Linked DNA regions of Homo sapiens: regions 2 and 3 are each reported to be linked to region 1. The links are microRNA targets in miRTarBase. Many come from high-throughput screens and were not tested one by one. Region 1 holds a microRNA gene; each other region holds the end of a gene's coding sequence.
The links. Region 1 holds the annotated microRNA hsa-let-7c-5p (UGAGGUAGUAGGUUGUAUGGUU, at 4,350-4,371, shown strand). A microRNA usually pairs through its seed, bases 2 to 8, with sites in the 3' UTR of a target mRNA and lowers its output. Matches are read on the target gene's strand: a 7mer-m8 pairs with bases 2 to 8, a 7mer-A1 pairs with bases 2 to 7 and ends in A, and an 8mer does both.

Region 1 (7,121 bases):
TCCTGCTCAAAAACAAAAACAAAAGCAAACAAACAAAAATCCAAACCAAAACAAACCAAAAAAAGCAAACATTGGCTGTATAACTACAGAGACATCGGGCTTTGTAAATCAGCTTTTTAAGGCAACATAACCAAATGAGCCTTCTTTATTTTTATTATTTCAAACCATATGGCATAATTAGCAATATATTGCACTTGGTGAAATCGCACCTTTCATATCAGGTATAACTTTTTTTGTTGTTTTTCTTTTAAAGGCTACTGTTATATAAAAGGGAATCCTTGAACTTTTAATTTACTTTTATTTAACTCATTGCCCACTTTACTCTTATTAACTTTTTCCTTTTCCTCTCTTGCTCTAATCTTGATTAAAATAGAAACTTAAGGAAAGATAGAAAAATCTCTATGAAAAAGACAATACATGTTTTTATGTGGGGTATACACAGAAGTTTTGGAAAGATATTAATATATCTGTGCTTTTTGTGTCCAGTATTAGTTTTTGCTATCTAAGAAAAGTGAATGTTTAGACCTAGTGGGTAAAAAAAGTAAATCTTTCATGTGACTTATAATTTGAAATGTGAAAGAAGAAACTTTTTAAACTTGTAGAAAAGGGTTATATTAGAATATGCGTTGAATGACTGATAAATAAGATTGCTTTTGGGGAAGTTATATTCAAATTATTTACAAAGATTTCAGTAGAACAAAAATAGGAATGAGAAGAGCATGTTCTCAGTTGCTAGGTAGAAAAGAAGCTTCTTTCATAATAATATGCTCTTTTAAAATACATTTTAAAAGAAGTACTTGTCCTAGAGCAGTTGCAAAAAGCATTGGAAATATCAAGTGTATTAGAAAAAGTACATGCAAACTTGTTTTAAGTTCAGAGCAATGTATTGGCTCAGCAGATAACTGCATTGCATTATAATTATTTTGTCTGTTTGTAGAAGTAAATTGCTAAGCAATTTAAGCATTTTATTAAAAAAACAGTTTTGCCTGGTTCAGTGTGAAAGGATTAGCAGATGCATTCCAGCTATTTTAGTTTTGATAAAAAATGTTTCTAAACAAGTGTAAAAATAATTTTTAAAAGAGAATGCTTTTGAAAAATTCAGCAAGTATCAATGAAAACTATAATTTGCATACTAAGAATTGACGTTATAATATTTCGGTAAAAATATACTTTGGTAATCTGTTATGCTTTTAAAATCATATTTTCTTATATTACAAATATGTAGGGTAAACAATGAAAAATGTAGAACTGATTAATTCTGCCTTTGTGTTTGCTATTCTATGAACAATTACAGGAAATTGCAAAATCCCTATATACTGATAACATTCAAATAAAACGTTCTGTTGGTTATTGTTCACTAATTATTTACAAAATAGCTCTTGTACCTCCATGCTGCCTCAGCTAATGGTACACCAACTTTCACTGGCTTAATTAATATTGATAAACCTGTTTCCATGTTTCAAGATCCGTTTAAAAACATTATTTTAAATGTTATTTTTAGCAGCCATTAATCTCTACACTCTTAATTATCTTATTAAGCTCCATGCCAAATCCAAATCTCTTTTCAGCTTTCGCTACTTCATTGTGCAAAACCTAGTCGCTTCTTTAACAGCCATCGTCCTTTCACTTTCAAAACTGTTACTGTGAAAACAACACGAACCAAAATGAACGCATAAATGCAAACTATGAAACCACTTTATATGTCATATGAGTAGCCTGGGTGGGGCCCTGTGAGTCTTCCAAGGCTTTAAAAAAAAAATACTTTAAAAGGTTTTGCCCATTTTGATATCGTGTTTTCTTCTCGATCGTCTACCCTCATTCCCACGATCCACTCAGATGCTCCTCCTAGACAGCAGTTGTCTGATATTTCTCCTTTTGTGGTTGTTTTAGGGAAAAACTTAAAATGGATATGAAAAGTGAAGAAAGTGATCATAGGAGAAAACCATTTCAGGTAAAAATAAAAAACAAAGAGCAAATAAGATTTACTGTTTTTAAAGAAAAACAACATTCTTTTGACTGTGTTTTGTTATAAGAATTAATTTCATATTCTTTATGAGTGTAACTGTTGAAATTTTATTGATGGTTTTCATTTGAAAATGTGTGCTATGACCTACCTTTGTGAAAAATTTCTTGTGGTCAATTGGGCAGTTTGTGTCCCATTGAATATATGTCTGTGTATCCATACGCTTAAGATAGGTGCAATACGGTTTACTAGAAAGCTTTATAGGAAAAGAAAAAAATTATATTTTCTTATTTGTTGTACCATATAAAAGGAAGTGAAATCAGGAGGAGGGGAATAAGGTCATGCTTTTTCATCTTTTTTACATGACCTGATAAGACAATGAAACCAAAACATGCTTTCTTATAGTTATGGTAAAACTAAACCCAATGCTGCCTCTTATTTCACATTTGCATTTATAAATATATGTTGAAATATTTTTACTACAACTGAATGTATGATTGTTGATTATTTACTATAGTTTTTAATAATTATGAGGACAATTTAAGAATAAATAATGGTTTAAAATTATGTAGAACACATGATCTATATAAAGGCTATAAAACGTATTTATTTCAAAATATGCAAAATCACTAAGCAATTAGTATGTAGTATTATTTTACACAATAAAGATATAATTAGGAAATGCTAAGTGATTATAGATGTGAAATGATTAATGATTGTACAACTTATCATTTTGTTGCAGTTGAGTTTACAATCTTAAAAAAACGTGTATGTGGCTGGCTTTATGTTTACTCGTTTGTGTGTTTGCTTGTTGTCTGGTGGTTTAAAACATTTTTTAGTAATATTTTATTTTTGCCCAACCTGTTGACCAGATGAGAGTTGTATGTAGCCATGCATTTTAAGTGTATCTTTTTTGAACAATAAGTTTAAATATATTTTATTTAGGAAAGAAGATATCCTATGTCATGTAATACATCTGGAGTATAAATGTTAGTGTGGAGTATTAGTAATCATGCCATTATCGTGCCATTTAGTTTAGTTTTATATTAACTCATCCAAATATTGTAAATTTTAGCACCATTCCGACTATAGACACAGATGTATATATTTAAGGCTGATAATAACTTCCTGTATTCTCTAGCTAGTGAACAAGATCTTACTGTTTTATGAGAAAGTTATAATGTTACCAATTCCTTGAAACCAGTAACTAAACTAGTTTTATAAAAATTAAAATAAGCACGGTCTAACTCATACACAATTAACTTAATAGTTAATTTGGTTTTAATTATAGGCTCGTAATACTACATTCATGCCTCACAATTATATAATTCATACATGCATGTATGGATTCTTTTTTCTTTTAAAACTCAATTAGAATAGTTTAATTCCAAAATATTTACTATTGAAACAAAAGCAGTTCGTGAAAAATTTTTCAATAAACTACTTTTTAAATTCTCATGCATATAAATTTGTATTTAGTTTTGAATATTTATGAAGGCCTTTAATGGAGAATATGCATCCTTAGAACTCAGCATTTAAAACATTTATACTAAAGGATCAATATTATTTTTGACTCTTAATTGCATCAGATATTTACAACAAATTCTATATTAATAGGGGGCCCATGCAAGATGTTGCCCATTGGCATAAACCCGTAGATCCGATCTTGTGGTGAAGTGGACCGCACAAGCTCGCTTCTATGGGTCTGTGTCAGTGTGGTAATCTGACAAAATGCTATACACAGTGCCGTTCAACAATAGTTCAGTAAAATCCTGTTAAACTCCAGTTGATTATATACTTTTGAAGTCATTATATTTTCCTTTGTTTTTAATGTTTATTTTAATCATTGTCTGTCTTACAAGGCAGGCTTCAATTCTCAACAACTTGGAAGCGTTTATATCACACCCATTCAAGTTCGATTCCATGTACAGTAAATTGCATAAGAAAGTTGAACCTTTATAGCAGGGTTTGGACCAGGATCTGAATAGATTCTGTTCAGAAACTTCAGTGCATACTGTAGTGCTTAGTGTACCTCTTCAACTTCAGTAAGAAAATTAAAGACTACCATTGGATTTATATGTTTTTATTGAGCCTATTTCTCCTGAAAAAATGAGGCTGAATGCAATTGACTTTTACTATTAATTGCGACTAGAACTATGGCAGGTTAGATGGTCAGAAGACATTTTACGTGACCTATGCTGGAAACCCAAGTGTTTAGGTTAGTCCTATGAGAAACAGTTAGCAGCAAAGTTTACTGGTAAAATGTTAGAATATTATATCTATATCCTTGCCAAGCCCTTAGGTGTATGGCTGCCATATTTGGAGGAGCTGACTGAAGATATGATAAGGAGTTTGAAGCAACATTGGAAGCTGTGTGCATCCGGGTTGAGGTAGTAGGTTGTATGGTTTAGAGTTACACCCTGGGAGTTAACTGTACAACCTTCTAGCTTTCCTTGGAGCACACTTGAGCCGTCGAGGAATTCTTCATCACTTTAACCTGATTGAGCCAATTTGTGTGCAAGAAGGTAATGTGTCATGAGTATCTTGGATCATTGATTTGGGCCTTTATTACATTAAAATGATCATTTCAGCCCTATTAGATTATTCCATTTGTATCTGCTTATGAACAATGTCAAAATGGTATTTCTAATGGGTTGTCACTCCATGTTCAAACATTTTAAGAAAATTGTAGGTAGTGACTTAAATTGCATTAATATTAAAGCTTTTTATCATCTATAGATTAACAAAATTCAGACCTTAATTTTCAAATGGATCATTGGTCTATTTATATTGGCTGCTTAGACACTATAATAAAAAATGTCTGCTAGAGTTAATAGCTCCCATAGCACATTATTTGCGTTTTCCTTATGACACATCACTTTCTACCTTATGTTATGGCTATTTATGTGCTTGCTGATTTTTTCCGCACTAGACTGTAAGCCCCTTGAGGGCAAAGTCCATGTTTTATTTTTCACTGTATCCCCTCCAATGCCTTACTCATAATGAGCACTAACTATTTATTGGATTAGTGAATGGAGTGTAAGACCTCACTCTGTGATGAGTTTCTATTGAATATTTGAATGAGTTATGGCAGTGGTCAAACATCTGAGTTTTATTTATTGCTCCTAAAACTGTTTAAATTTAATTCCTGGACTGCTCCGCATCAGTAATACATGTGTCGATTTTTGACTGTGTTGAATGTGTTCATTCATTCTAAACAGATAAGTTAAAATTTAGAAGTACTTTTTATCTAGAATAAAAATAATAGAGTAAATTCATTTTTACTAATTAGTTCATGACAGTTTATGATCCTACACTTAGATAATTCATATTTCTGTTGAATTTAAATACCTTTCTTTCCAGATGAATCGTTTTTCTTTTAGCATCAATTTCAACTAAATATTCTATTTTAAGTCTCATTTAACAATATGATTTTTAAAAATTAGATTTGTGTCTTTTGTGTATTTCCCTCGTCTCCTGCCCTTTATTTTTGTACAGCTATATCTGTTGAATAAACCAGAAGCAACTAAACCAGAAACATGTCAATAAATTAATAATAAATATGTATATAAAGTATAATTTGAGAATGTGAACACATTTTTGTTTAAAGGAAAGGCACTTTATAATATTCTTTGTGTTACAAAGCAAATGGGACTCTTTGGAACCTTAGTTTGCTGTCAACTTTAGCAGCTGTTAGTGGTGTAATTTGTGTAGTGAGGCTATCTTACATAGATCATCTTTCAGACACAGGATTAAGTAGTTGTTGATGTTAGAACTTTAATTTAAGACTCCAAATATGAAACATGGAATTCATTAAAGAGACGTTTAGATGCAAATATATATTAAGGACCTCAAGATACTGGCTATGTGGTGCTGACCTTTCTAGAATGCTCAGGCATCCAAAATATCTTAATACCTAGAACTTGCTAACAATGTAGTGAAGAAGGAATGGCTACCCCCAACACGTAGAACATGTGAGCCTTAGAAAGTGAATACCAGTCACTTCAAGCAAAATAATTTGATTGGTCTACAGTAGTAAAGACTCTTTCTCTCTGTGAAAGAAAAATATTTGCAAGGACTAATCAAGAAGCAATGAATAAGAGGCAGTAGACATAGACCTAAAACAAACAAACAAAAAGACATGAAGAGATGAAAAGGAAAGTGACTCATAGCAAATAGGAACACCATTGTGTCTAATGATGGCAGTTCAACCCACGGATGAAAGAAAGGGACAACTAAATGGGTAAACAATTGTATCTTTATAAATAGTTTTTTCCTTGAGAGCCTAGGATCCCTTTCCTATGTGTTTCTATGTATGTATCTCCCAATACTAGGTGTATTTATTTAGAAGCCAAATCTATTGATGGGCCAAATAGAATATGATTGCCAATAAATGTCTATTTCCTTACAGTGTAATGGAGTTAAGTGCCTCACAGAGGTCAAGTAAGATGTGCAGTTTAAGGATAATCTTACAAAAGTACTATAATGAATTGTTAGAATTACAGCCTCTTTTATATACTATCACCTAAAGTGAATGAGTATAATAGAAGAATAATTGAAGAATGGTGAAGATGTCTCTATGATTCATTATGTTAGTTATGTAGAAATCATAAGAAAAAATCTGACCAGGTGTGGTGGCTCATGCCTGTAATCCCAGCACTTTGGGAGTCTGAGGCAGGTGGATCACTTGAGGTCAGGAGTTCGAGATCAGCCTGACCAAAATGGTGAAACCCCATCTCTACTAAAAATACAAAATTAACTGGGCATGGTGGCACACACCTGTAATCGCAGCTACTTGGGAGGCTGGGGCAGGAGAATAACTTGAACTCGGGAAGCGGAGGTTGCAGTGAGCCTAGATCATGCCATTGCACTGCAGCCTGGGCGACAGAATGAGACTCCGTTCTCAACAACACAAAACAAACAAAACAATAAGACAGAAAAAAACCTGCAAGGTGGAGGATATAGTTAGTACCAATGAAGAAAATTTTTAAAACTTCTCTGTAGGACAAGAACACTACGTGGAAGAATTGTATGTTTGCCTTTGATTCATAATAAATTTTGCTACTCCAGGTATGAGGGCTATGTAACTTGCTACAGGTTTATAAATAAATGGCAAATGTCAGATATAGAAATTGATAGGATTTTTTGAGAAACCAAG
Region 2 (7,121 bases), not on the chromosome of region 1:
TTCCCAGACCTCCGCTGTGGGAGGTCCCTTGGAATGAGGAAGATAGGTTACAGCAGTTCACACCCACAAGGATAAAGCAGTGAGGGCCAGACGTGTTTATCTTCAGGCCAGTTTGGTATCATGTTGAAGGGCATGGGCTTGAGTTTAGGCTCTGCCACTTGCCAAGAAGTTGCTTGACCTCTTTGAGCTTCTATTGCCTCATCTGGAAAATGTCGGGGGAGGCAGGATAGATTAGAGCTTCTGCCTGATTGGAGTGTTGTGTGGATAAAAAGAGGCAATCCATGAACAGCCTTAGTGAAGTGCCATCAAGCATATGTAAAAGTCTAGTGGGAGTTAGATATTTTTATGAATAGTACTACTAATAAAAAGTAAAAGTATCACAAGCAGCGTGCTTTGGAGTCCACAGGAAGGAGTAATTCACTTGGAGTGTCCCTTTACTAGGTAGCTCCCTCAGTTTGCTCCAGGCTGCTCTGTTGGGGGCCTCAGGAAGGAGGATGCAGGTGAAACAGGTGAGGCCCACCCTGTGGGATGCAGTAGAAGAGGCTCGGGCCCGCCGGGCTGGCCTGAGGCCCCTGCGTTTAGGCCTCCTTGAGGACACCCTGACGGACAGTGGGCTAAGCCAGCTGGGAAGGGCACTGCGGGAGCTAGAGGTGAGCAAGGTGAAGCCTGAGGGCACCTGGGCTAGCCATGGCCAGTACCCACCTTGAACCCTTTCTCCATAGGTGGTAAAAGCGTGGAGCCAGCACCCAAGAAGCCAGATGCTCCAAGGAGCAGTCTGCCTTCTTGTCCTCTTTCCAAAGCACTTTGAGGAAGACCTCCATTCATTCATTGACTTATTGATTCCCAAACACTTATTGACCACCCACTGTATGCTGGGCCCAGTGCCACATAGGCCCTGGGAATTCCCTGCCCTCATGGAGTTTATAATCTCCTGGGAGGAAACAATTGCACCACCATAATCGGTGCTCTGAAAGGCTTATAAACACAGAATTCTGTGGGGCATCTAAGTTAGCCTTGGCAAGAGAGGGATGGAAGACTTCATGGAGGAAGTGATTCCTGAAGGAGGTCAACAAAGATGAGTGAAGAACCTGAAGGCAGAGAGAATGACAGGCAAAGACTCAGAGGCAAGAAAGTGCTTGGTCCCCTTGAGGGAGTGCAAGTAGCTCAATTTATTGAAGAACAGAACTTGAGGAAGAGTCAGGAGAGAAGTATTGGAGAGGACAGCAGGGGCCAGGTCACACAGGGCTTTGCAAAACAGAGGTGTTTGGACTTTGTCTTAAAGGTCACAGGTGAGCCACAGAAGTATTTTAAGCAGGAAAGAGCACTGTGCCCTTTTCAGGTGAGCAAACTGAGGCTTAAAGAAAAGATGTGAGGCTGAGCGCGGTGGCTCATGCCTGTAATCCCAGCACTTTGGGAGGCCGAGGTGGGCGGATCACCTGAGGTCAGGAGTTTGAGACCAGCCTGGCCAACATGGAGAAACCCCATCTCTACTAAAAATACAAAAATTAGCCTGGTGTGGTGGCGCACGCTTGTAGTCCCAGCTACTCGGGTGGCTGAGGCAGAAGGATCACTTGAACCTGGGAGGCAGAGGTTGCAGTGAGCCGAGATCACGCCATTGGACTCCAGCCTGGGCAACAAGAGTGAAACTCCATCTCAAAAAAGAAAAGATGTGAGAGGGCTGGGCGCAGTGGCTCACGCCTGTAATCCCAACACTTGGGGAGGCTGAGATGGGCAGATCACCTGAGGCCAGGAGTTCGAGACCAGCCTGGCCAACATGGTGAAACCCCGTCCCTACTAAAAAATACAAAAATTAGCCAGGCATGGTGGCGCATGTCTGTAGTCCCAGCTACTCAGGAGGCTGAGGTGGGAGAGTCACTTGAACCCAGGAGGCGCAGGTTGAAGTGAGCTGAGATTGCACCACTGCACTCCAGCCTGGGTGACACAGCGAGACTCTGTCATAAAAAAGAAAAAGAAAAATAAAAGATGTGAGACCTGTGAGCCTGGGGTCACAGGCATAATCAGGAGCAGCAGAAGTATAATCACACTCAAGTCCTTAGACTCCTAATCTAGTGCTCTTTCATCTCCTTAGGCTGCATGGCCTTTCTGGTCTTCCATGATTTATCACAGGGTGGTTGAAACCCTGTCCCTGTCCAGCCTCTCCTGGCCTTTCTCTTCTTTTTTCATAGTTGCTTAGAACTTGTTTTTACAGCCTTGGGGCTTGGGAATCAGGCATGGTAGCTCCTATTTATTGAGCAAGTGCCTTACTGCCCAGTGCTTTCGGTGCAGTACTTCATTTCATTCTCTCCACAACTTTTATCAGCTCGATTTGATAGAGAAGCACATGGAGACTAGGCCAGTCACCTGCTCGAGGTCATTCAGCTAAGAAGAGGAGGGGCTGGGACCCTGATCTGTCTGATTTCCAAGCCCTGATCTTAACCTACACTGTACTGGGAGGAAAGGTGTGGAACGATCACTTCTAATATCTTCTCAGCAGGTGATAGAGTCACCAGTAAACCAGAGCCCATGCCTCGAGGGAGAGCCCCAAGGTGGGTCTGGGACTTGGGGATGAGCTGGGAGTGGGACGTCTTCCCTGCCTTTGGTGTGATTAATTACATTTTCCTCTAGTGGCAGGAAGAATGGCAACTCTAAGGCGTGGCTCCACCAAAAGAATCCTCTCAGGCACCCTAAGGAATAGGTAATACCTCATGTACCCCAGGAACGACTAGAAGCTGTAGGGGGAGTGAAGAGCTGCAGAGCCCAGCTAATGTGCCCCTGCTTACCCTGCCCCAATATCAGGGAGAAATATGAAGTTTTTGACAAATAAAGGACCTGAAGGTGACTAGACCCCTAAGGCAAGGCCATGGGGAGGGACTGTTTTCCTACTTATTGGATTAAGGGTATAGGATCCTTAGAGGCACTATGGCACCTCCTGGCAGAGCCACTACCTTCCTCTCCCCACCATGGCCTCCTGAGTCTCTGCCCAGGCTACAAGCTCTTCCAGGCTAGTTAGGTCCTGGATGTTGTTCTGGGAGCAGCCCTGGTGATGAGGTTCTATTGGAAAAGTTGGGCTCTGGTCCTAAATCCGTGCACACACATGAACTTCTGACCAAGCCCAGCAGATACCAGATGTGGCCCGGCCGCTCTTCTTGGCCCAGGCCCAGAGGCAGAGACTGAGGGAGCAGCACCAAATTTGGATTCGAGAGAAGCTGAAGCATTTGGAACAGAAGGAGGAGGTGGCAGATGACCAGGTCAAAGGCCTGGTGGCTGAAGAGGAGGTAAGGAGGGTCAAATAGGGGACTTGAGGCTCTAATTGGTCCAGGCACTGTGCTAGGGGCTAGGATCCATCATCAATCACAACCGACCAGTTCATACCCTCTCTCATGGCCCTCACAGCCTTGTCAGGGATAGATGAGGCAATTCTCAGTGCTAAGTGATGGGATGGGGGATCTAGGGTTGTGTGGGACCAAAAAGGCATATCTGACCCAGGCTGGAGTGGATCAGAGGAGATGGAATCTAAGTTGAGCCTCAAAGGACAGGCAGAGATCAGCCAGGGGAATTCACTGGACACTGAGCTTAACAAGGGCAGTTACTGCTCATCAGTAACTGATGGGGGGTGGGTGGAGTGGGGACATGTTCTTAGAGAAGACAAAACAGTATAAGCAAAAGTTCAGAGGGAAGCAATGGCAAAGTGGGTCTGGGAACTGCAAATTCTCCAGTCTGGCTGGAGCTGAACAGGTGCGTAGTCAGAAGCAAGGCTAAAGAGACAAGTGTGTGCCACAGCTCTGGCTTTGGACTTTACCCCAAGGAGAGCTGCAAACCATTGAAAGGCATGTGCCATGTCAGCTCTGACCTTTACTAGCCATGAGAATTTGGGCAAGTTAGGTCACTTCTTTGATCCACTGTTGCCAAATCTGTAAGATGGCAATGCCACATATGGTTGTTATTGGATAAAATAATACACCTGAAGTATTTAGCACAGAGCCTGGCACACAGGTGGCACTCCAAAGAGTATGTGTTATCACTGAAGGCCTGCGAGGAGAGGCAGAGATGGCAGCAGGAACAGATGGTGCTGAGATTCCAGCTGGAGGCCCTTCAGGAAGAGCGGAACACAGCAGAGCAGGACCTGGCAGCCCTCTATGACCTGCATGTGCAGGCCACCCGAGCTCAGACACACCATGTGCTGCCCATCAGTGGGGATGGAGGGTAGGCCTTGAGCTGGCTCCAAGGCTGGCTGAGTGACAGGCATCTCTGAATCTGGGCACAGGTATTCTGAGCCTGGCAGGGCCAGTGGGAGGAGGGGGCCATGACCACAGAGCATCATCACTGCAGCCTGCTGGCGGGCACCCTGGAAGAAACCATCAACCTGGCCACACAGAATCAGGAGCTCCAAGCTGAGAACCAGCAGCTTCAGCAGGGTGCAGACTAGGCTGGGGGTAGTCATGCTGGACCTGTCCTGGGGAGAAACCTTAACAGGAACCCTTTAGAGGAAGTTTCTTGTCTCCTCATTCTGGAGGGTCCTAGAAGGGAGAAAAAGGTGAGACAAAACCAAGCTGATCCTTATTATGGATAATTAATAACACAAACCATGTCTCATTGTTCCAGTCCTTACTAAGTGCCTAATATTATTTTATTTAGCCTCTCCAGCTACCACATATAGTAGGTACCATTTGATCCTTATTTCAGGGATAAGGCAACTAAAGCTAGGAGAGGTTAAATAACTGCCCAAGAACAGTCAGCTAAGTGGAAGATCCAGAATTCAAATTCAAGTCTGTCCATAGTTCTACACTGCACAGTAGTGGCTTACAAGCTTCTGTGTGCATCAGAACCACCTAGGGAGCTTAAGAGAAAGAAGAAAAAGATTCCCAAACACTACTCCCTAAGATTCTGCTTTAATAGGTCTAAGATAGGCCTAGGGCCCCCCCCCAACCCCCTTGGTTTTTTTTAGAAACTCACCACATATTCTATCATAGAATCAGGGCCTGACATTCCCCTGGCCATGATTTTAAGACAGATGACAGGCAGAAATTGTAAGGGAACCAGAGGAAATGAAAACCGAAACCACATCGGCTTTCTTAAGAGTTTTTTGGCCTAGAGTCTAGTTTGTCCTGCTCGGCCCAGCACCTGCTGTTCCCAAGACTCTCTCCGCATTCCCCTGGGCCCAAGTTTTGTGCTCCAGGGAAATTTCAAAAGCTCTATGACAGGGAAATGTCTCAGTTCCATGGAACTCTCACAGGAAATAATGCCACTGGCAACAGCTTGGAGAAAACAATTTTTTCTTAGTCTAAAAGTTATCCCAGAATTAAGATACTCAGGACCCCAGAGGAACAAAATTGTTTGAGGGGAGTTGCGCAGACAGAAGACACAAGACAATCATGGCTGTGGTTGTAGGAACCACCCTACAGCCTAGAAGACTTTATTAAGATCTTATTGCTTATGCAGTTAAAGAGACACTGATTGAGCTACAGGTTTCCTGTACCTGGTCTCAGGTCACTCTGTGCAGAGCTTCCCCAGGCTGTTGGGAGCTGGGAGACTGCTAGGCAGGGGCAGGCCCCAGAGTGGGAAGCATGGTACCTCCTAGGAGCCTCAGAGTGGGTAGCGGGCTTCAAGACAGCCCTCAGGGTGAACAGAGAGGTCAGGAGTGTCGGCTTAAGCCAGGGCCCAGGGGCTACATTCCCTGAGATGAGTCAAGCCCAGCCCTCTCTGGGGTTTCCAGAACAAAGGCTAGGTGTGGGGAGCAGCACTGTGGAGAGGGCAGGGAGCATGTCTCTAGGCATTGCTGGAACTGGAGGAGACTGTCAGAGTGGTTTGGGTAATGGTTGTATAATCTGTGGCAACTGGGCCTTCTTGCATGAAAGTGGAAGGGTGAGGATCCCTTATGGAAGAGTCATGCACCATGGCTGGGCTGGACTAGCCAGCTCCAGTGGCTCTGCTGGGTGACTAAAGTAGGCAAGGAAAGCCACTTGTTGCCCACACCCCACTTTCATCAACTCTGTTCATGCAGGACAAAGCAGGGAGCTGCCCAACAAGGATGGGGTTATTTCTCAGGCCTAGGTATTGATGTTACCTTAATTCTTTAGTCTGGAAGAACTTGGTTGGGGGTGGGGGATGGTAAGCATTTCCTTAACCAAACCCACACTTCACATCTCCTAGGGGTACCCCTTCATCCACCAACCTCCAGAGAATAACCTGGCTGCCCTCACTTCTCCAGCTTTTCTCACAAGGCACTTGTTACAGGGCTGCTGATGGGAGAGGGAGGAAGGCCTGGGAGGGGGATCTGGTGGTGGCGCCCAATCTACAGGGTCCGGAATCAGGGTGGAAGTTGTCAGGGACTAGCGGCTGCCATAGTACAGGCGCATGGCCAGGCCAATGAGCAATGTGGCCAGGAAGAAGGCGGCTGTGAGCTGCAGCCGTAGCAGGACTGCTGAGAGCACGGCGTTGACCACCAGCGAGCAGGACACCACAAAGAGGCGTGTGATGCTGCTGCCATGCTTCATGACAGCAGACATGAGCAGTCCATTTAGTGCCTGGCTCAGCACCACGAGTGCTGCCCATCCTGAGAAACCTTCCAGGAGGCCTGGGCCAGAGCCGCCGCCAGCATGCAGACCTAGATTCAGAAGCACACCAAAAGTGTAGAGGAAGAGGTTCTGAAGTGCCAGGGGCAGCCGCTGTCGCTTCATGAGCAGCTCTGTGTACACTGACGACAAGCCTGAGATGAGGCAGTACAGAATGAGGAGCAGCAGGCCTAGCGGAGTGATATGCAGGGGCATGGGGCTGGCAGCAGCTGCTGGAGGGGGACTGGGAAGGGTGTTCCCGGGAACTTGAAGGCCCCCTGCTGCATAGCAGGCTCCCGCAGCCATCAGCAGCAGCAGCGCTAACCCCTGACGCACAGAGAGGCGGTGCCGGAGGCAGAGGCAGTAGAGCACAGCTGTGCTTCCAATCTTGAGATTACTCAGCACCTGGTAGGTGCTGGGGTCCATGTAACGCTGAAGATAGATCACCAGGTTGTTGTTAGCGCCATAGAGCAGGGCTGATAGTGCGAAGGGAGCAGCCTGGCGCCAGGGTGGGGGCCCCTGGGGCCATGCTTGCCAGCCTACCAGAAGGGAGAAGGCGCATAACAGTAG
Region 3 (7,121 bases), not on the chromosome of region 1:
GCCACAGAGACAGAAAGTGGGAACATCAAGCAGATACCGGGTAACTCTCACTGTTTTTTTAAAGGAGGGGAAATTCCAAGGTATCAGTTGAGTCCTGCACATATTGGGGTAGGGGAAGGAGAAGGTTAACGCTCAGGTCTGGGAGCGAAAGTGTAGAGTATTAAAGGAGGAAACAAACCTCAGAAAACTGGGAGGGATAGGAAAGGAAGAAAAAATGTGTGTTAAAGCTCTAGCCTAAACGATTTCCATGAAGTAACCAGAGGGGAGGAAGTGGTAAATGGAAACCCTAACTAAGAAGTCTGGTTCGTCATGCCCTCTGGTGTGCTGGACGTTTTGCCTTATAAACAACAGGATAGAAGATACTGCTCGACAGTGCCATCCCTATCATGGCCTTGTTTTTTACAGGCCCAACGAAGGAACCACTTCTGGGAACTCATTGAGGAAAGAGAGAACAGCAACCCCTTTGACAACGATGAAGAAGAGGTTGTCACCTTTGAGCTGGGCGAGATGTTGCTTATGCTTTTGGCTGCAGGTGGGGACGACGAACTAACAGACTCTGAAGATGAGTGGGACTTGTTTCATGATGAGCTGGAAGATTTTTATGACTTGGATCTATAGCAACCTTGCGTGGCGTGTGAACTGGTCTGCTGACCTCAGACAGCAGCTGTCCCCTGTGGTGGTGTGGCAGTGCCTGTGTTCTCTCCTAGGCAGGCCTCTCAACTCCAGGTGCTGTCCTAAGAATTTTTACCCAGGGCCTGTCTTCTCAACCCCTCACCTTTCCCTGAGGAGTGTGTTGTTTTCCCTGTTGAAAAAAGTTACAAAAATAAATCTTAAAGTTAGTTTTTTGTAACACGAATTTAACTGTCAGACAGTTAGTGTAGGTGTGTTGCGTCATCTGTTTTCAACCAGATTGCATTTATGGACTTTTCACACACTCATTTTGAGGACCCCAGGTTCAAAAGTAAAAGCAGTGGCCCTGCTTTGGGGTCCAAGAATAGGAGTGATGGGTGAAGGGACCTAAGCTGGCCAATAGCCCTCTGCCCCAGACATGGGATGTGGATCCTTGAGGTTTCTGGTGAAATCTGCACATCTGTGTTTTTATATCTGTTCCCTACCCTGTAATCCCTACCACGTGCACTTGTTCTGTGGTTTTGGTCTCTTGTTTAATTGCACACAAGTAATACTACTGGGTAACCAGAATCAGGTGTGAATGTGTTGAGATTTTTTACTGTTTTGCATGATAGGAAAATTGAGAAAGAATACGTATAAAAGATAGAGAGGCATAACATCAATGCAGAGTTGGAAGTTGGCTCCCAAGGGCTGACATGGTGTGAGTGTGTGGGTGTGTGATAAGCTTCTCATCCCTGCATAGATGCAGTATTCTTAGCCTTAGTAGAAAAACCTGGTTTAGTGGTTTAAGCCTTGTGTGGCAGATAGATCTTAAAGGGCAAAGCAGTATATTGGTAGTTGTCAATATAGCAGTGCTAGCTCTGTCTATATAAATAGAGAAATGGGGTTAGCCATAGAGGTTAAAACTACCTGGTTATCCCATATAATAACACAAACTGGGTCTTGGATACACAGTTGTATTTAATGTTTTACGATCTAGCCTTTCCAGTACAGGCACTTTCTGAGAAACCTTTGTCCTCACTTGAGGCATTTTGTTGTCGGGTTTTTGTGTTTGTTTTTGTGGGTATTTGCCTCATTCCACCCCTGAGCTTTCAGGTAGACAGACGTGATTCAAAACTCTGTTCTAAGGTGTTTATTGTAGTGGAGTAATGGGTTTGCAGTGATAAGTCATACTTTTCCACCGAAAGGGAGGGCTTGGGAATCCCTGAGATTAGCTAAAGTTAAGTTGTTGGAAGAATTCCTTGATTGGAAATTGTACCTTTGTGTTTTGTTGCTCTGTTTCCTGAAAATAACTCGGGGATGCTCCTGGTTTGTCCATCTACTGCTTTGATTCCTTGGATCCCACCCATTCTTTCACTTTAAGAAAAAACAAATAATTGTTGCAGAGGTCTCTGTATTTTGCAGCTGCCCTTTTGTAAGAAGCACTTTTCCCAAATAAAACAATTAAAAAAAAAGTTGGCTGTTCTGTGTAATGAGCTGTTTTTGAAATGTGCCGATGTCAAAGAATAATGATGTTTTTCTTTCACTGACTCTTCGATCGGTCCCTTGTCGGATATTCGGGAGGATAGGTACTTTGAGAAATGTGTGTGAGAGAGAAAGGGAAACCTTAACTAGCCGGGGTCATCAAACAATCCTATACTTGAAAATGTTCAAGACTAACGCTGGGCCACCTGTTGAGCAAAAGGCACTGGCAGTTTTCTGCTACCATGCACTTGCGGTTGAACTTGCTTCATGCCCTTAGATAACGGGGGAAGGTCATAATATAATTGTATTTTGAAAGCTTATTGTTCTGCATAATTATTTCGTGAATTTTTAAGGAGTTTTCATTATTGTGAATTTTTTGTGAGTAAGAACCATTCTGCTACTCCCATGGAAGACCTTCAGGTGACCTTTTTTCCACACTTGTAAAAATAACTGCTCCTCGATTTTAGTATTTATGTTAAGAATTTATGGCTGGGTGCGGTGGCTCACGCCTGTAATCCCAGCACTTTGGGATTACAGAGGCAGGAAAATCACTTGAACGTGGGAGGTGGAAGTTGCAGTGAGCTGAGATCATGCCATTGCACTCCAGCCTGGGCAATAGAGTGAAAAAAATAAAGAATTTGTGCTATGGGGGCCGGGCACGGTGGCTCACGCCTGTAATCCCAGCACTTTGGGAGGCCGAGGCGGGCGGATCACGAGGTCAGGAGATCGAGACCATCCTGGCTAACATGGTGAAACCCTGTCTCTACCAAAAATACAAAAAATTAGCTGGGCATGGTGGCGGGCCCCTGCAGTCCCAGCTACTCGGGAGGCTGAGGCAGGAGAGTGGCGTGAGCCAAGATCTCGCCACTGCACTCTAGCCTGGGCGAAAGAGCAAGACTCCAACTCAAAAAATGCTATCGGAAAATGTTTAAACATCTAGGAATCATTTCTGAGTGGGCTTATACTGTGGTCATGATAACAACTGGGGATCCACTGAGTAGTCTGGTCTGTTTCTGTAAGCTTGTAGCCCAGCAGCTAACTCCCAGGGGAGTTAAGTCCACCCTCAGGTGTACCAGTCAGGCTATGCTGGGGACATGCAGAGGGATGGGGAAGAGCCTGAGAATGGGTTGGGAGTGCTGGAGCTAGGAGGTGGAGAGAGCCTTGAGCAATTCTGGAAAGTAGGAAGAAGCATCGTTTGCATATCTGAATCTGCAACAGGGAGAGGGGGATAGCAAGGTCCAGGGAGTGGCAGTTGGTCACTTCTGGGATGGAGAGAAGTGTATGTTTAGAGCAACTCTTTTGTATCTTGGAAAAGGCAGTGGAAGCTTCTGTACTAGTCCGAGTAGTCTGTAATGTGGATTGCTACCCTCAATGGCTGCATTGAGAGCGAGTTCTCTTCTTTCCCCAAGTGTTAATTGCCTGTTGCAAAAGAAGCTGAGGTGTAAACATTGATGGGTGGAACGTCTCACCTTCTCATTTGCACAAAACTACAATTTCAGCCTCTTCCCTGCCACTGTACACAATAAGTGATTTCACATCATGCCAGTGATTTGGGGGAGAGAAGGGGCTTGATATTAATAAAGGTAGTTGATAAAGGAGGAGAAAGAGGCTTGATATTGATAAAGGTAGATATTGAAATGGTAGTCATAGTACTGGCAACAGATTTCCAACCCTGCTTTGTGGCTTCGTGGTTCAATTGCAAGGCCCAGCTGACTTACCTAGGCTGAAATGTGAGAAGTGTCATTGCCAGATGAAAGTTTAAGATCCCATACGTGATCCTCTTTCCAGGCAATTGGTAAATTTTGCAAAGTGGCTGTTCTACCAGCCTGGGTCACCATGCTGGTACACTTAGTTAACCCATGAGGGACATGGAATATGAGCAACCCATAAACCTTTGGGGTGAGAAGCCACTGAGCCAAACAGCCTGCCCTGTCTTGAAATCTTGTTTAAGCTGTCATTTTATAAGGAAAATTAAGCAAAATCCTTTTTTTTGTTTTGTGTTTTGTTTTTTTTTTGGAGACGGAGTCTTGCTCTGTCAACAGGCTGGAGTGCAGTGGCGCGATCTTGGCTCACTGCAACCTCTGCCTCCCGGATTCAAGTGATTCTCCTGCCTCAGCCTCCTGAGTAGCTGGGCTACAAGTGCATGCCACCATGCCTAGCTACTTTTTTTGTATTTTTAGTAGAGATGGGGTTTCACCATGTTGGCCAGGGTGGTCTCCATCTCCTGACCTCATGATCCGCCTGCCTCAGCCTCCCAAAGTGCTGTGATTACAGGCATGAGCCACCTCGCCCGGCTGAGAAATAATTTTTAAAAACATACTTGTTCATCTGAAGTGGTTAATACAAACTCACTCTCATGCAGTGGCCGTATTTTATTACTTTTCAGTGTCCAGGACTTATTTCACAAACCTTTAAACAAGTTTACAGTGTTGATAAAGGAAGTGCTCTGTTGCAAATTGTCTTAAGACAGCGCTTATTCCTTTGTATTGAATGACAGGAAGAGATCCATTGCTGATAATAGAATATGCCTCAGATCTTACTTCCCCAGAACTAGCCTGGGCACTTTGTTTAGTTCACTAGGTCTTTATCTCAGCCCCTCATCAGTGTATAGAAGAAATAACACCACACAGTACCTGAGCAAATAAAAGCATTTTTTAGGTTCTAGTGATGAGCTTTTTTTGTGGGATTTTGCTCCAATCACCCCAGCTGGAGTGCAGTGGCGCAGTTTCGACTCACTGCAACCTCTGCTTCCTGGGTTCAAGCGATTCTCCTGCCTTAGCCTCCTAAGTAGCTGGGACTACAAGCGCACGCCACCACGCCTGGCTAATTTTTGTATTTTTAGTAGAGACGGGGTTTCCCCATTTTTTTTTTTTTTTCCTGAGACAGAGTCTTGCTCTGTCACCCAGGCTGGAGTGCCGTGGCACAATCTCGGCTCACTGCAACCTATGCCTCCTGGGTTCAAGCTATTCTGCCTCAGCTTGTCAAGTAGCTCAGATTACAGGCGCCAACCATGACGCCTGGCTAATTTTTGTATTTTTAGAAGAAGCGGGATATCGCCATGTTGGCCAGGCCAGTCTGGAACTCCTGACCTCAGCCTGGAACTCCTGACCTCAGGTGATTTGCCTTCCAAAGTGCTGAGATTACAGGCACCACCACGCTCGGCCTAAAACTGTTAATGGATGACCTTTTTAGTAAAATGAAGGTATCCACATATTTTACAGATATTTGAGTCCTTGTGCATACAGGCACTGTACTAGTGCTAGAGATGCTGTGAGCAGAACACAGTTTGCAGAAGTGCTCATCAAACTAGCCCACTTGGTCCCTTCCACTTCCCAGGCCCTTTGCAGTTTGGTTGGTGCTGCATGGCTAACTCACGTCATGTGCCGTGTGCCCTCCTTGTCATCGTCTCTGTTTCATGGAGGTATTGGAAGCCATGTGTTAAAGTGGCAGAGTCACAAGACAGGAGGGATCCTGGATCTCTGTGTCATGGATAGAGGGAGAGCTCCCACCCCCAAAATCAGATTTTGTATAAACAAGAGATAAATTGAGATTTGGGAGATTTTGTTTTGTTTTGCCAGTAGCCTAATATGAAATATCCTAATAAGGCAGTTGTGGCCCTTCATAAAACTGGTGACTGCTTTCGATAGGGGGCCTGGGCTAGTGTGGCCATGGAAAGGTCATTTGAATTGAGATCTGAATGGCAGAAAAAGTGCCCTGCAGACAAGACATCCTGTGTTAAAGCCTGAGGCAGGCAAAGGCAAGACATCCAACAGCTTTTCCTTGACATCACCATTAAGGACACTCGATGGCCTACAGGACACATTGAATTTCCTGTGTTAGGTATAGCTTTTACTTTCAGAAAAGTATACATGCAAGTCAGTAACATTATAACAATGTCTAACATTTATAGGAATAATGTTGGATTGCCTTAAAATACCAAAAACATTCTTCCTACAATTTAATGCTTTACTAAACTGCAACACACTCACCTGATCATGACCTGCTGCAGTTGGAACCAGTCTCCACAGCAGGGCTTCTCAGCCTTTAACGTGCAAATGAATGAGAGGAGGAGGTTCTTGTTAAAATGCAGATTCTGATTCAGTGGGTCTGGAATAGGCACAAGACACTTATTTGTATTTTTTGAGACTGGGTTACTCTGTCACGGGCTGGAGTGTAGTGGTGCCATTGTGGCTTGCTGTAGCCTTGACCCCCTGGGCTCAGGGGATTCTTCTGCCCCAGCCTCCTGAGTAGCTGGGACCACAGGCACATGCCACCATGCTCAGCTAATTAAATTATTTATTTATTTATTTATTTATTTATTTTGAGACGGAGTCTCACTCTTGTCGCCAGGCTGGAGTATAGTGGCACGATCTTGGCTCACTGCAACCTCCGCTTCCCGGGTTCAAGCGATTCTCCTGTCTCAGCCTCCTAAGTACCCGGGACTACAGGCGTGCATCACCACACCCAACTAATTTTTGTATTTTTATTAGAGACGGGTTTCATCGTGTTGGCCAGGATGGTCTTGATCTCCTGACCTCGTGATCCGCCCGCCTCGGTCTCCAAAGTGTTGGGATTACAGGCATGAGCCACCGCACCCAGCCAATTAAAAAAAAAAATTCAAACTTGGTTCCATAGGCCAAAACCAGTAAGAGCAAATCCTGCAGGCAAATGCATGTAGAGGAATTTTGATTTAAGATTTGAAATAATTTACAACTGTAAACGACCATATGGAAGTGCAGACTGTATTAAGAGGTAAGGAGGTGTAGCAAGGGTACTGGTAAAAGAACTACAGACACCCTTTTATCCTGCTGGCGTTCAGTAACCAGTACAATCTAGCAAGGTAGTGGTCAATAAACCATCATGGATGCGACGTTGAAAGGCCCAGTCCTTTCTTTAGTCTGATTTTTGAAGTATTCTAATAATAACAGCTGTTATTCTATTACTTAAGCCAGTAAGTCTTCAGTAAACATATTTCTGGTGTGATGGGTGGCGTCAGGGAAGTGGTTGAGTTTGAGAGGAAACATGCG

Region 2: the mRNA of SLC35A4 is a reported target of hsa-let-7c-5p. The part of its 3' UTR that is shown has no 7-base or 8-base seed match.
Region 3: miRTarBase lists MKRN1 as a target of hsa-let-7c-5p. The part of its 3' UTR that is shown has no 7-base or 8-base seed match.

Annotation. Positions count from the first base shown.
Region 1 is chr21:16,535,489-16,542,609 of GRCh38, forward strand. MIRLET7C (microRNA let-7c) reads left to right here and starts at 4,340; the gene lies at 4,340-4,423. The region is part of intron 6 of MIR99AHG (mir-99a-let-7c cluster host gene); the gene reads left to right. It overlaps MIR99A (microRNA 99a), which reads left to right and starts at 3,601; the gene lies at 3,601-3,681.
Region 2 is chr5:140,567,353-140,574,473 of GRCh38, reverse strand. SLC35A4 (solute carrier family 35 member A4) reads right to left here. Exons shown (of 3, transcript NM_080670.4): 3 at 5,374-7,121. The coding sequence ends at 6,330. It overlaps LOC131768270 (SLC35A4 upstream open reading frame protein), which reads right to left. Exons shown (of 3, transcript NM_001394034.2): 3 at 5,374-7,121. Among named protein-coding and RNA genes, the nearest start is that of SLC35A4, 6.1 kb to the right of the region's middle. RefSeq lists enhancers at 3,739-4,238, 4,239-4,740, 4,772-5,171.
Region 3 is chr7:140,448,014-140,455,134 of GRCh38, reverse strand. MKRN1 (makorin ring finger protein 1) reads left to right here. Exons shown (of 8, transcript NM_013446.4): 7 at 1-40; 8 at 406-2,102. The coding sequence ends at 618. Among named protein-coding and RNA genes, the nearest start is that of MKRN1, 28 kb to the left of the region's middle.